Homo sapiens: one gene and its partner. The protein of the gene in region 2 purifies or fractionates together with the protein of the main gene of each other region. This does not show direct contact. Each region holds a gene or a part of one and is shown on either strand. Other genes may lie near its edges.

What was found.
Region 1: the proteins of SP4 (region 2) and PCDHA4 purify together in Homo sapiens (affinity purification with mass spectrometry; one large-scale study listed by BioGRID and IntAct). This does not show direct contact.

What each region holds. Positions count from the first base shown.
Region 1 is NC_000005.10:141,005,744-141,009,457, reverse strand, and holds part of PCDHA4 (protocadherin alpha-4 isoform 1 precursor), read right to left. Parts: intron 1-3,714. UniProt on the Homo sapiens protein: Calcium-dependent cell-adhesion protein involved in cells self-recognition and non-self discrimination. Thereby, it is involved in the establishment and maintenance of specific neuronal connections in the brain.
Region 2 is NC_000007.14:21,473,050-21,476,873, reverse strand, and holds part of SP4 (transcription factor Sp4), read right to left. Parts: intron 1-3,824. UniProt on the Homo sapiens protein: Binds to GT and GC boxes promoters elements. Probable transcriptional activator.

The DNA of each region.
Region 1 (3,714 bases), on a different chromosome or scaffold from region 2:
TGTTTAATTTTTTTGAGACAGGATTTCCCTCTGTCACCCAGGCTGAAATGCAGTCACTGCAGCCTCGACCTCCTGTGCTCAATCAATCCTCCCATCTTAGCCTCCCAAGTAGCTGGAACTACAGGCACAAGCTCCCATGCCAGGCTAGCTTTTTAAAAAAAATTTTATAGAAATGGGATCTCACTATGTTGCCCAGGCTGGTCTCAAACACTGAAGCTCAAGAGATCCTCCCACCTTGGCCTCCCAAAGTGTTGGAATCATAGACATGAGCTACCACACCCAGCCAAGGCCAGTATTTACAGACAAGCAAGAGGGCAGGTTTTTTCACCAGGATACCAAGAATCTAGTTTCATAGTAACATATGTTTGGTTCTTTGTGAAGAATTTCCTAAAGAATACAGTTGTGATTATCTTGACTGGGAACGGGATGGGAAATACAGAGCCTAAAGGCAAAATATGCTCCTTTTAGTGTCTAGATTAAACTTTGGCTATAAATGTATTAGGATGTCTATTTTGTCCAAAACAAGAAAAATTAGCTGAATAAATTATTTGATCTTAATTTTATTGTAATAACATTGAAGGGTGGTGGGATGCAGCATGGAAGAGATGGGAATACACAGCGTAAGAGGATGGAATCCTGTTGTAAATTGAGCCTATTTGTTTAGATAAAACACTGGGAGCCAATTTTACTTTCCAAGCCAAATTCCTTCCCTCAGTGTGCTCACAGTCTAGTTGGACATACACTCAAGCAACTAGAAACCAACTTAATACATGCAATAACTAAAGTATATGTAAAGTATTGTGGGACTCCAGAAGAAGAAATTGTTAATTATACTTGAGAAAGTTAATGGGGTTCCAGAGGAGGTGAAATCTGCCCTGAGTCTTGGGAAAATGATTATGCATCCACAGGAGTTTTCAATAAAAGACATTCCCAAGAGTCTGATTGGAAGACACACCATAAAGTATACCAGTGACTTCTAGAAGAGTAGAAGTCAGAGCTGGAGAGGAAGGGTAATGGTCTGTCTGGGCAAAGTGATCCCAGTGGCCATGACATTGGAACTCTGACATCATAGCAATGTTTATGTATCTAACACTGCTCCTTTGGTTGACACGTGAAAAGCTCCATCAAATAAACTGTTTATGTTCAATTACAGTTTAGGGTTGGGTACAACTGCTATTTCAATTTCCTATTACTTCTCAGTCTCCTCTAATTTGGTGTCCCTGAGCAGTAATTTTCTAACATAACTCATGTCAAGTTCATTATATTACTTCCACAATCAATGGTCACATTTTAGTCCTCATCTTATCAAACCTCTCAGCAGCATTTGTCATCCCCTTCTTGAAACACTTATTCTCATGAGTTCTTTGTCATGTAGAATAACCCCAATAAGTTCTTAGATGGACTGGACCCCTGTTACAAAAGGCAGATTAACAAGAAAAAAAAGGAAACAGAAGTTTATTAACATGTACATTTCATATATACATGACAGACACCCAGAGAATGAGCAGTTCTCAAAAAGGTGGCTTAGAATTCCAGCTTATATAGCATCTTCAACAAAGAACAATAAATTTTTAAAGAAGTGTAAGACAAAGGAAAAGACCTTTAAGGACTTTGAGTCTCTAATGGGTAGCTACTTGGGGGAAGGCAAATGAATGGCAGATAAAGGCTAATTTGTAAAGCAGTACCATTTCCAGGCCAATAAGAGTCCAAAGTTATCTTCAGTGGTTAACCTTTGTTCTCCCTGGTGGTGGGAGGCAGAGGAGGGAGGTGGAAGTAGGATAACTTTTGTCTTTGTAAATTTATGGTTTTTTAGGCAAATACAGGGAGGGCAGAAGACCTCTCCTATATCTGCTTCTTTTATTATTATCATGATTATTATTTTTTAAATTTGAGATAGAGCCTTGCTCTGTTGCCCAAGCTGGAGTGCAGTGGCGAGATATCAGCTCACTGCAGTCTCTGCCTCCTAGGTCCAAGTAATTCTCGTGCCTCAGCCTCCTGAGTAGCTGGGACTACAGGCACATGCCACCATGCCTGGCTAATTTTTTTTTTTTTTTTTTTTTTTGTATTTTAGTAGAGATGGTGTTCCATCATGTTGCCCAGGCTGGTCTCGAACTCCTGAGCTCAGGCAATCTGTCCACTTTAGCCTCCCAAAATGCTAAGATTACAGGCATGAGCCCACTGCACCCAGCCTGTATCTGCTTCTTTTAACTTGCCTTCAGCTCAACAATCCTTCTTATTTTGGGACAGCATATTCTGGCCCCCACCATCAAAACATTCTCCTGACCTTTCTCTCTGACTGTTCTTTGACAGTTTCCTTTGTCAGTCTCCTCATCTGTGTGTTGAAGCTTCCTTGGGTTTGGCCCTAGACTCTCTTCTCTATTTTCTCTTCACTCTCTCCTTTTGGGATCTCAGCCATATCCATAGATATAAATACCATATGAATAAGCTGATGAGATGCAGACTTATATTTTAAGCCCACATCTCTCTGTGCTCCAATCTCATGTATAACTGCCTATCTGGTATCCCCAGTTGGAAATCTCATGGGCATCCCAAACTGAAGAAATCTGAAATCAAACTCTTGATTCCTCGAATCTATTCCTTTCTAAATCTTTCCAGTTTCAGTAAATTACACCCCATTTACCCCATTTCTCAAGCCAGAAAGTTCAAAGCTAATTATTCATTTTTCTCTATTCTATTCTTCATTCTCCATTTATAATACATCATCAAGACCTGTCATTTCTGCCTCCTAAATATATCTTGACTCTGTCCTCTTCTCCCAATTTTCACTGCCACCACTCTTTCAGGACACCATCATCTCTTATATGAATTGCAGCAATAGTCTCCTTATTCAGTCTGCTTCCACTTTTGCTTCTCTCCAACCCTCCACACAGTAGCCAGAGTCATCTTTATTTCTTAATGTCTCTCTTTAAAAACTGATGTATAACAGCCAGGCGCGGTGGCTCACACATGTAATCCCAGCACTTTGGGAGGCCGAGACAGGCAGATCTCGAGGTCAGGAGATTGAGACCATCCTGGCTAACACAGTGAAACCGCGTCTCTACTAAAAAATAGAAAAAACTTAGCCGGGCGTGGTGGTGGGCGCCTATAGTCCCAGCTACTCAGGAGGCTGAGGCAGGAGAATGGCATGAACCCGGGAAGTGGAGCTTGCAGTGAGCTGAGATCGTGCCACTGCAGTCCAGCCTGGGCAACAGAGCAAGACTCCATCTAAAAATAAAAAATTTAAAAAAAAATGAGGCATAACATACATATAGCAAACTCTTTTAAAAATATAAATCAGATTATATCACTCCTCTGCTTAAGCTTTCTACTGCCTTGAGAAAAAAAAAAAAAACTCCTTACCATGATACATAAGTCCCTTCAATAATCTGATTTTTATTTCTTCTCCACTCTCATCTACAAATCTCCCTCTTACTATTATACTCCAACCATACAGGCCTTCTTTCAGATCCTCAAACACTCTTTGGAATTGTTTTTTTATTGTTGTTTGTTAGAGATAGGTTCTCACTCTGTCAACCAGGCTGAAGTGCAGTGGTGCAATCATTGCTTGATGTAACCTCAAACTCCTGGACTCAATCGACCCTCCTGTCTCAGCCTCCCAAGTGGCTGGGACTACAGGCCACCATACCTGGCTCCTTGGAGTTGTTTTTGCCTCAGGATCTTTACACATCTGGTTTGCTTTTGTCTTGAATGATT
Region 2 (3,824 bases):
AACGGAACTATATACATACATCATTTAACTCACTTTGTGGCTTAATTTCTCTCTCCATCTGTAAAATGAAGATAATACTTGCCACTTACCTACTCACTAAAATACTATGAGGATACATGAGATAGTCTAAAAGCATTTTGAGATCCTAAAAGATGTTATATAAACACAAAGCTTTATTACCATTTCCACGGTAAGCAACATATCTTATCATAACAAGAAAATACAGGAGTGAAAAGTCACTAAACAAAGGATTAAGTTTTATGGACATCTTGCATTCCTAAATAGTTTAAATAAACATCTCTTTATTGATTCGACTTTTTTTAGTGTATACATAAAGTGGTTTTTGAAATGCAAAACCACCCAAGATTACTACATACTGTCACTGTAATCATAAAAAGACATTTAAGATATTATTACTTTATTCATTCATGTTATATAGCTTAGACTTCATCACTCAGATTAGTATATATACCAGCTTGGCTTCTTCACTTTGGGAAAAATATAATAAATAATGCACAATAAAACAACAATAAAAAAATCTATTGGCATGGCTTAACATTATCCTGAAATACAATGCTTTTTTTTTTTTTTTTTTTTTTTGAGATGGAGTCTTGCTCTGTCGCCCAGGCTGGAGTGCAGTAGCACGATCTCGGCTCACTGCAACCTCCACCTCCTGGGTTCAAGCAATTCTTCTTCTTCAGCCTCCCTAGTAGCTGGGATGACAGGCGTGTGCCACCATGCCCAGCTAATTTTTTTTGTATTTTTAGTAGAGACAGGGTTTTGCCATGTTTGCCAGGCTGGTCTCAAACTCCTGACCTCAGGTGATTCACCTGCTTTGGCCTCCCAAAGTGCTGGAATTACAGGTGTGAGCCACCGTGCCCGGCCTACAATGCCTTATAATTATCTTTTCTTTCACACAGTTCTACATTCTCTCCATCAGGTGTGGGAATAACAAGTATGTGAATGGACTGAAAAGAAAATACCAATTTATGAAAGAATGTTTCTACCTCAGAAAGTTGATGTAAGTATTAAGTAAATTTACAAATCCTCTACCAGAGTGCTGGCACGGAATTGCTCATTACATGGTAGCTACTGTTACCAATTCATCTCTGCTGAGTTCAGTGGCAATACAAGAATAAAATATGTCACTTTGGGAGGCTGAGATGTCAGATCACAAGGTCAGGAGATCGAGACCATCCTGGCTAACATGGTGAAACCCAGCCTCTACTAAAAATACAAAAAATTAGCCGGGCGTGGTGGCGGGCGCCTGTAGTCCCAGCTACTCGCTACTCAGGAGGCTTAGGAAGGAGAATGGCATGAACCTGGGAGGCAGAGCTTGCAGTGAGCTGAGACTGTGCAGCCTGGGCGACAGAGCGAGACTCTGTCTCAAAATAACAATAAAATATGCTAGCAGAAACAAACATACCGGTCCTGCATACAAAATAAAAGGGTTTCTTTCAGGCCAGGCGTGGTGGCTCAGGCCTGTAATCCCAGCACTTTTGGAGGCTGAGGCAGGTGGAACACGAGGTCAGGAGATGGAGACCATCCTAGCTAACACGGTGAAACCCCATCTCTATTAAAAATACAAAAAATTAGCCAGGTGTGGTAGCACACACCTGTAGTCCCAGCTACTTGGGAAGCTGAGGCAGCAGAATCGCTTGAACCCGGGAGGCAGAGGTTTCAGTGAGCCGAAATTGTGCCACTGCACTCCAGCCTGGGCGTCAAGAGTGAGACTCTGTCTCAAAAAAAAAAACAAAAAACAAAAAACAAAAAAAGGGTGGGGGAGGTTATTTCAAAGCTGCACATGTAGTACCTTAAATGTATGGGGCAACCAAGAAGAGGCAATAAAAAGTACCAAGTAAGAAAACAGTACACATTTTCTAAACAAAATTAAACCTCTGACTCTCCCAGCCAAAGTCAATCTCACTCTCCTCTGCGTATCCACAGCACCGTTAATCCTTCTGGTAGCACCCATAACTAACATGCACATTAAAAAATTTATTTTGTCACTGTTTTAGTAAGGATACAAACCCTCTACTAAAATTTACATTTTTGTACACCTTTGAATTAGCATGGTGTGGTAAGTAAAGCAATGCAAGTGAAGTGAGAGTTGTAAATTTATGACTGTGCACTCAGAGATCCTCAGTTTCCTCAACTCTAAAATAGTAACACTGACTTCCATAAAATTTCTGCTCCCTATCTACTTTAAAGAGCTGTTCCTGAGGATCAAGTTGATTTTCCAGGGGTAAAGGCTATATAAATTATAAAGCAATACATAAACAAAAGGTATAATTATTTTGTTTCAGTGTTTTTGAACATGTATTCAGTAAAACTAGATGGCTTAAGGATGACCTTGGCTACAAAATCTATTCAAACTACTTGTGTACCAAGAAGCACAGTGATACACACACTTTGTTTACTGCAAAAAATGCATTTCTAGAAATGAGAGTACTGTCTGAACAAGCACTATACAAAATCTACAGCATGGTCCCTATGGAGCTGCAGGTATTTTAAGTTGGTAAGTACCCTTTACATCCCCTGAAGACACAGGTATTTTTGGCCGTGATTCTCTGACTACTTTTCTCATAACATTTATATAACAGTCATTACTTTAAAGGTCGCAATAATATTTAAGATGACCTTTATTTTGGTAAAGAACTGCTAGATGAGTTTCAAGTCAAAGCTAAGTCTGGGGGTGAGGGGTGGGGAAGAACTGCTAGAGATTCCTGATCCCTCTGGTCCCCTGACCATGTCCTTGACACACTCCTCAAGCCTCCATATTGTGAGCATTTCTTTGTTCAATGCCTAAACAACTTGGAAAGTTATTTCAATGAATAACAGAGGCAAATTATATTTGAGTTTGTATATTGAAGCCCGTTAATTGACTTCATCTAGATGTTTCACAGACAGCTAAGTTCAACATACTGCTTTATTTCCACTGCCATCAGTAAGCCACCAAACTCCAGAGCAAGACCTCCGAGGCCCCACTTAAGTTTAATTCTATTGACTTCTCAGAGCTCATCTCTATTAGTCTCTCCCTTGCTCACTCTGCACCTGATATACTGGCCTCTCTTCTGGCCCTCAAATAAATCAAGCTCATTTCCTTCTTAGGGACTTTGCATATACTCTCCAGTCTAAGTGGGGATGCCTTTGCACCCAGATCTTTGCATAGTTGATTCCTTTGTAATATTCTGGTCTGAGTTCAAATCTCTCCTCTTTAGAAATGCCATTCCTGACCATCCCATCTAAAAGCTCCCCTCAATATATCACTGTATCATCACCTAGTTTTGTCTTATTTGTCTTAAATTACTTTGTCCTTTTATAATTTGGTCTTCACCTCACTTCTGAAGGTAAAGTGCCATGAAAGTAGGGATCTTGCCTATTATGTTCACTGCTGTATCTCTAGTACCGTAACAGTGCCTAATAACTCAATAACAGTGCCACTCAATAGCATATGCTTAATAAATCAAAGTTTAAAAATAAAAAATGATTTCATCTTCCAGTCTTGCTTCTGCTAATGTCCCTGTTTCAGTAAATGCTACCCCTATTCTCCTTGTTATCCACACTGAAAACCTTAAAATGTCATCTTTTAGGCTACTTCTTTACTCATTACATCCAGTGATGACCAAATTTTGAAGACACTACTGCCTAACAGCTCTTACGCTAACCTGTTTCCAAGCAAGATTATCATCTTGATCCAAGCCCTTGTTCAATCTGTGCCTCTACCAACCTAAATTGAGCTTTCCCTCCTTTCTCATCCTTCACACTGCTGCCAGAAAAATAAAAAAGTAGTGTTCTGATCATCTCACTTTCGTGCTCAATAA